Linked DNA regions of Homo sapiens. The protein of the gene in region 1 interacts with the protein of each later gene in a pairwise test. Each region holds a gene or a part of one and is shown on either strand. Other genes may lie near its edges. The genes, in order: PPP1R9A and MECOM.

What was found.
Region 2: the proteins of PPP1R9A (region 1) and MECOM interact in a two-hybrid assay, tested with the Homo sapiens proteins (one study listed by BioGRID).

Annotation. Positions count from the first base shown.
Region 1 is NC_000007.14:95,291,771-95,295,598, forward strand, and holds part of PPP1R9A (neurabin-1), read left to right. Parts: 3' UTR 1-3,828. UniProt on the Homo sapiens protein: Binds to actin filaments (F-actin) and shows cross-linking activity. Binds along the sides of the F-actin. May be involved in neurite formation. Inhibits protein phosphatase 1-alpha activity.
Region 2 is NC_000003.12:169,117,918-169,121,745, reverse strand, and holds part of MECOM (histone-lysine N-methyltransferase MECOM), read left to right. Parts: intron 1-533; coding exon of another isoform or gene 534-536; coding exon 537-690; intron 691-3,828.

The DNA.
Region 1 (3,828 bases):
TCTTTTACTTTATGGGAATCTCTGCTCTGTTCCCAGCATCTCGTATCTTCCACTAGAAGTATTCCATATTTAGAGCCTCGGCAAGGCTTTTGAGTGTAACAGATTAAGGGAACTCCCTTGTAGCCCCATCTTGTATTTTAATAACAGTGTGATTTTTTTTTATCTGAAAATCTGAATTCAGAAATTATCTAAACTGGACATTTTTAATTCTGTTTTACCCCCAAGGCCTGTTTTCTTTTCATTGCCAGAGTATTGTCGGTTATGCGTCAGCTCTTTTGTCATTAGGTACAGACCCTTCATTCAATCCTCAGAAACGTTGACATGAAGTAACATTGTGTTTTACAGTTATCAAAGTCACCATTATGTTTTTCTGTCTGTCTTCATTAGGGGTATGATAATGAAACTGCCGTATTGGATACTCTATTAATGTCTTGAGATGTCTGGTGCTTTGTTATTTTTTCACATCATGAGAAATAAGAAGCCACTATTAATGAGTGATACAATTTGGCAAAACTTTTCAAATACTAAAACACTAAATTAGTAAAAATCTGGTAATATTAGTGCTTGCTATTGTAAATTTTTGCCATTTTTGCTTATCTTTGGGAAAAAAGTGACCTGGATCACACTGGAAGTTTCACTGTATTCAAGAGTAGAAATAGAAGGATGATTATCTTAAGTTATGTTTACACTTTGGTAATATTTGAAAATGGATGTATATACTGGAAATGTCTGTAAGTGTCTTGTTTTTGCACCTAATTTATGATCTATTATATTGCATTTTCTTAAATATCTTAGAAGTATTTTTCTTTATAACTTTGTATATTGAATGTTTAGATAAATGTCCAACTGACAATGTTATAAATCAAATTCTTATTCCTAAAATCATTTAGTATTATAAGTATTTTGATTTTTTAAGTTAAATTATAGTAATTTTAGGCCGAAGTGAGTTATTTTAACATTACCACTTAAAACGGATGAAATTGTAAAAGTCATTTGGTTTGATTGCCCCACAAAGCATAAGATGTAAACTGATTAAGGGTATGAAAGCAAAGTGAAAGACCTCAGATCTTGTGCACATTTTGTTTTCCTATTATTTCTTTTATTGACTGTAGTGCATGATACCTAATCAAGGCTCCAATGTCTTGCACAATTCCTACTTTAATGCTAGTGGTTTTCAGTGTCCTTACAATTTAACACAGAATTGTTATTTCATCAACCTTAAAAACTGCAGTTTTTATTATCAGAAAATGAACAAAAAGGGAATATCTGGTTGCTATGAACTGATTCCCTAAAGGAGAGCTCAGTATGATTCTAACAATAGCCAAAAGTGTTTTGGGGTATAGGTTATGCTTTGTTGGGAGGGAATGTGTGGTGAGGAGGCCAAGCTGCAGACAGAAAGCATTGTATGAGCTGTATCTGGGTCAGGGTTTCCCATTAAAGGATGTTAGTTTTATAACAGATTACTTTGTTTAAGACCATCTCCCTTCAAGTAACTCACAGTTTATGTAATACTAATCTCATTCTTTTTTTACCTGAATCAGGAATTTTCTGCAGAATGTTAAGTTAGGGAAGAAACCTCATTTCATCCATTCTAACACTCCTGATGAAGTCCCCCTTTAGTTTCATGACAATAAAGCTGTTCTGTGGCTATCATCCTTTAGCTGGGATTGACAATTGATTTCACACCCTCAACATCACAAGCTTTTTTTAACCCACAGCAGTTCATGATTGCAGTATGATAGGTACTAAAGCCAAACTCAGCTTTCAACTGGCACAAAATGGGACTGTCACCTTTTGCTCCATTGTTGTTGGAAACAAAGTGGCAAGAGGGAAAATGAGGAACCAGATTTACCTTTGCCACTATCTGTGACCCTGTAATCATCACTAGCCTGAAATCTTAAAATATCCCAGTCCCAAGCTACAAAAATGGTCACAGGTGGTTTGATCTAGCACCTCGGCCGTTAGAGTTTGTGCTGAAGACAAATTTGTCTGGGTTCATTGTGCACCAGAATTAGCATGTGCTTGAAAATTGCATTTTATAAAAGGGAAATGAAAATTTGCATTTATATAGATACTCTGATTCATGTTTAAGTGTTAAAGGTTATGCAGACTAAACTTCAAGAGGAGATCCAGTGTTTAACAATAGTGTTCTAGAGGATTCTAAAGGAAGCTGCCCCAGCAGCCCTGAGAGAACCATCTATACTTTGGATATGTTGTAGCCCCATCATTACACTGAGATATTTCCATTTGAGTAACTAAAGGTACTCCTGACAGAGCTGGAGATGAGGGGCATTTTGGTGGGCAGTGGTCACTAGGGTTCACGTCACCTACTTAATGCAAAGACCTTAGTGGTCTCAGAATGAAAAGGTAAAATGGAAGAGAAAAGCACAGTCCTTTCCTGTCTTTTCAAATTTACTTTTTATTAAGGATGTACCTGTGCACTATTCTAAAGCTAAGCATTTAAGGATAAAGTCCAGAAATAAAATGTCCATATTTTCTTTTCTTTTCTTTTTTTTTTTTTTTTTCTGTCATCTGTCACCCAGACTGGACTGCAGTGGTGCCATCATGTCTTACTGCAGCCTCAAACTCCTGGGCTCAAGTGGTCCTCCTGCTTCAGCTTCCCAAGTAGCTGGGACTACAGGCATGTGCCACCACCCCCAGCCAAAACATCCATATTTTCTATTAGAATGGTTTACATTATGATGGGGGATGGGGAGCTGGGGGAGGGCTGTACATTCCCAAAAGAAAGTAGTGTTATAGGAAATCCAAATGCGCTTCAGTGATTCACTCCTGAAAAGCAGCCTGGGTATGTTGGCAGATTTTGTTTGCATTTGTCTTGCGTATTTAAAGTCTCAGGAAATCTAGTCTTGGTCCAAAACACTGGAGAAAAAAATAACACCAGACAAAACACATTTGAGTAACTTGAAGTAGCAGCATAGAATAGGCCCAACTAAGAAGTTGGAGGGGCAAAGAGAAAGCCGACAGAATCAGCTTCTCCTGGAAAGTGAAAGCATCAAGTTCTATTTATGGTAGACAGAGGGTCCTTATTTGCTTGTCCGTGGTGTCTATGTGGGCCTATTGAGGGAATGGTAGTTACTTGAAGGTTCACATATGTAAGCGTGTGGACCCAGCACAGTCTGTGACCTGATTCCAGATCCTCAAGAGTGGAGAAGGAAAGAAATATGATGATTTCCTATGCTTGACCCTAACCCAACCCCAAAACTGCTAGGGATTCAACAGTGAGTAAGATGTATGCAATAAGAGAACAGATAACTTCTCAACAATGTGCATGCCGTTTGTGTAGATGTTCAGAACTACATATGTGTGAATATCACTCCCACCTTACACACGCACACACACTGCAATCACATGGCATTAAAAAATATATTGTGTATGGAACTTGGCGAGGTCAGTCAGGACCTGGAGCTGTAATCATAGCCTTATTGCCACTTCTTGCGTTGTGTATACATTGAATGGCTCATAGATTTTAAGAGATTTTTTTATTGTAAGTATTTCTACTAAATGCACTTATCCTTCTATATGTTTATATATTTTGGTAAAATTGATTTATCAGATACTTGGTATTTTAGTAAGAAAATTTCCTCAAATATTTGGCTAATGCTTTGATGTCAAGATTGCATATTGCTGAGTTGGAGCTCAGAAGAAATGTATGCAGCTAAAAATTGCACTGTGTGTTCTTGTGAATTTGCTCACAATTCTAAAATGACATAATTGGTGGCTGTGATGCTTACAGTCACTGCCTACTGGCTCTCTTATGATGAATGTTGCCATCATATGATCATTTATTTACTTTTTGTGCAAGCAATG
Region 2 (3,828 bases), on another chromosome or scaffold:
AGATGTGTTGGGTGGCTTTTTTATTTTTGTTTTTAGTACAATGTCTAAAGGAATGGTTTTAGCTTGCTAGTAACTCACTGAAAGAGTGTTAGAATTTTACGCCCTAGGGAAACTCTTTAAATAGATTTAATGTAGTTAGTCAAAATCCTCCAAATTTTTGTACACAATGTGTCTTTATTTAAAGGGTGAAAATAGCACACCAGTTTTAATAATGGCTTAACCAGCATTTTATTATTCAACTCAAGTCACTCTAAATGGTATCAAAAAGGCCTTGAATATGGCCTAATAGTGCCATTCATTATTTGGTTCAACTGATACCAGTGGATACACCATGCTAAGGATATAGAGCAGAATAATTTACAGTTCCTACCCTAGAGGAGAGTACATTTTGGAAATTAGAGGAGAGTACACTTTTGGTCTTTGGGGAAAAGAAAAACAAAACAAATAAGAAAAATTTCTTCTTGAGTCATCCCGGGTCTTCTTTATTGTGCCCTTGAGTTAAGTTTCTTGATTAATCAGTACTCATTTCCTAGCAGGTTTTCACGGACCCTAGCAACCTTCAGCGGCACATTCGCTCTCAGCATGTCGGTGCCCGGGCCCATGCATGCCCGGAGTGTGGCAAAACGTTTGCCACTTCGTCGGGCCTCAAACAACACAAGCACATCCACAGCAGTGTGAAGCCCTTTATCTGTAAGTTTTCAACACTCCAGCCCTCCTTCCCACATCTGTCTCTTCCCCAAAAGGCACTGTGACCAGGAGAGTGGCTGCACATGGCCTTTAGAGGGTCACCGTGTTAGCTATTTATGGTCCAATCCAGTAGGGCTATTTATGATTACAAGTAAATCTTTTATAATCAGATCCATGGTATTTTGTCCTTGATTCCTGGGGTGTTTTCTTTCAGAAGAAATCAATAACAGGTAGAGAAAAGAAAATTCATTAGATAATCAAAGGGAAACCTCCACAGGTTGTAGGATTTAATCAGGACAATCAGATTTGTCTCATATTGTAAATGTTCATGGCTTTGTAAAGCAGCAAATAGCAGCCATCACTAAACAAGATGAAGTGATTAAAAACCTGTTCTGGATCAGAAAGAGCTGGAAGAAGCCCACCTGGGAAGTAGGCTTACGGCTCTGTGTGCATGTATGTGAGTATATGTGTGTGGAGAGAGCGAGGGGGATGAAATGCTTTTTAATCTACCCATTGTTGCCGATCACAGGCTGTCGGATCTGTAGTTCTCTGTTACTTGAAGAAAAGCAGAACATTTTCACTTAGATGCTGGACATGCTGTTTCTCTTACCCACTGCACCAAAGCAAGTTTATAGGCAGTGTGCTTTTAGGGGACATCTGATCTGACCACCTACTTAGAACATCCCTGTACAGAGCACTGTAGTAACATCCTTCAAATACAATAAAACTCAGCTCTCATTTGCTTTTTCTTCTCTCCGCCCACTCCTATTCTCTGTATTGTGCTCAAACATTTTATAAGTAAAATCAGTTGTTCTTAGTCTACCTGGGCAAAAAATCTGGGCTTCTTTTAATCCATTGCTTGGCGGGGCATATAAATACAATGACTTATTGAGTTGTGCTACAAACGTCAAGACTGATTTTGGACCCAGATACACATAGAATTGGTTGAAGCATACTCAGCACTTGGCAAGACCTCTGACTTTGGTTTGTAGTAGGTATATGAGACACTACTACAGGACCTGATGGAAAAAACTATTTTTCAGTGCCAACATGGAGATGCCAGAGACTAACTCTCCTTTGCCTCGACACAGCTTTCTTTTGTGTGTCCAAGCACCAAAATAGCTTTTCTTTCCTTTTCCAGCTTACACTAGAGTCCTGTTTTGCTCATATGCTCTTCTGTTCCCCGGGTGAAGAGGACTAGCAGATTAAAAAAGGGTGCTCTCATCTCCCTTGGGGAAGCTCTATTGAAGGTCACGGGAAATAAAGCATTCAATAGAAATTTTAGACTTCTTGTCGCAAAAAGGCATTCCTGACTCTTAAGTCTTAATGCCCTGAAAATGTACTTGGAAGTACTACAGGCATACGATATTAAATAGTTCATTTATTTCTGATTCCTCAGAAATAAATTTTGGTAAGTTTTATTATGTTTTGATGTGAGAAAAAACTAGAATAAACCACAAGGAATTCTGATCACTCATTTAATGCTTTCTCTATTATTTAAAATAAAAGTCAGAAAATATAGACTTCTGCTATCGAAGATTCTGGGATCTGGAATTTTAATTGTGTTGAAGACAAGTGTTTCACTTTAAAGTGCCATAGGGTGTCCCTTTCCAATCAGATTGCATAAAGTATTTCCCTTGAATGTATTTTCAGTAATTATTGGTAAATTTAAATAGCAGATGGCATTCTTCAAATTTAAAATCTGCCAGAGAACCATGGAGTAATTATGAATAATAGCCATGTAATTTCAGAACAAAAGAGATTAAAGATCAGGAAATGGTGTGGAGACTTGAGTGGAGGAGGTTCACCTAGGGCTGATATCTGTTTCTCACCAGAAGGCCACACACCACGATTTACCCCCACTGGTGTGTTTATGGCAACTGTCTCTTATTACAGTGTGCTGCCACGCTTGAGCCCAAAGTCACCAGTGCTAAGGTAATTACTCACTGCCTTTACAGAAACCTACAGCTTTCCCAAATAGAAACCACATGCTCTAATAGGCTGAATATATTCAAAATGCCTCTTAATTTGTTTAATAAGTAGAAAAATGCAATGTTAACTGCTGGCTAATTCCTTATTACTGAGAAAATTACAGTAGAGTATAAACTTCAACATCAATTGAACCAGTTTACCTGGAGGCCTGGTAGTTTGTGGTATGCCAGGCCAGGCCTTCAAGTGCCGAAAACAAAGCCTCTGCCTAAGAAAACATCCCAGATTCGATGTTCTTGAGCCCAGACACAGACAGCACTCAGCCATGTAACAACGGGTGCCACCAGAAAAGTCAGCTGAACTTCTGTTACTCCAATAGAGAGAAGCTCTTGATTTTTTTTTTTTAAGCCATCTGATTGTAAGAAAGAAGTGTAGAGAGCAACATTTCCTTGCCAAAAAATGACAAGTCTTTGAAAAACTTATGTCTTGGTTGAATACTCATCAAGACATTTTTTCAATGCCTTTTAAGAGGTGTTGCTTTCTTACTTTTTATAATTCCAATAATAAAATATTGTTATTGCTTGTAGCTATAAATTATTCTAATATATCTAGTAAACATCTGATGTTTCTACCTTCTCCATTATTTGATTTTAATTAGTGTATCAAACAGTTTAAATTAGATGTATATTTATGGTGTATGGTTAAATTGTATATACTTTTAAAGCTGACTCTGGTCGATATATTCTGGTAAAATAATTTGAAAAGATATCACCCACATCTTCTATTCCCATTAAAATGCATGTTACAGCCTCTGTAACGTTGTGATTCATCCCACAATTGAAGGCACCTTTAATATTACCAAACACTTTGATATATGCAACAATACACTTTAACCTTTAGTAGTAAAAGAAAGAGATATACCCTTACTTGGTACTTCCTGTTTGGATGTATGTGGGATAATCCAAGCTCTGGGTGAGTTTTGCTTGACTGAAAGTCTATAAAATCTCCTTGACATGAGTTTTTTTTTTTAATTATTATTGCTTTGACTTAGAAGCACAATCATTCTGCACTTAAAGGCAGCCATCATATGAAAGCAATAACTGTTGCATTTTGTCTTCAATTTAATTTCTTAAAATAAATTTGCTTCAACAATTACCAACAAGGTACATCTTGTTTCTGCATGTATTGAACATGCACAGAAGTGTTAAAATA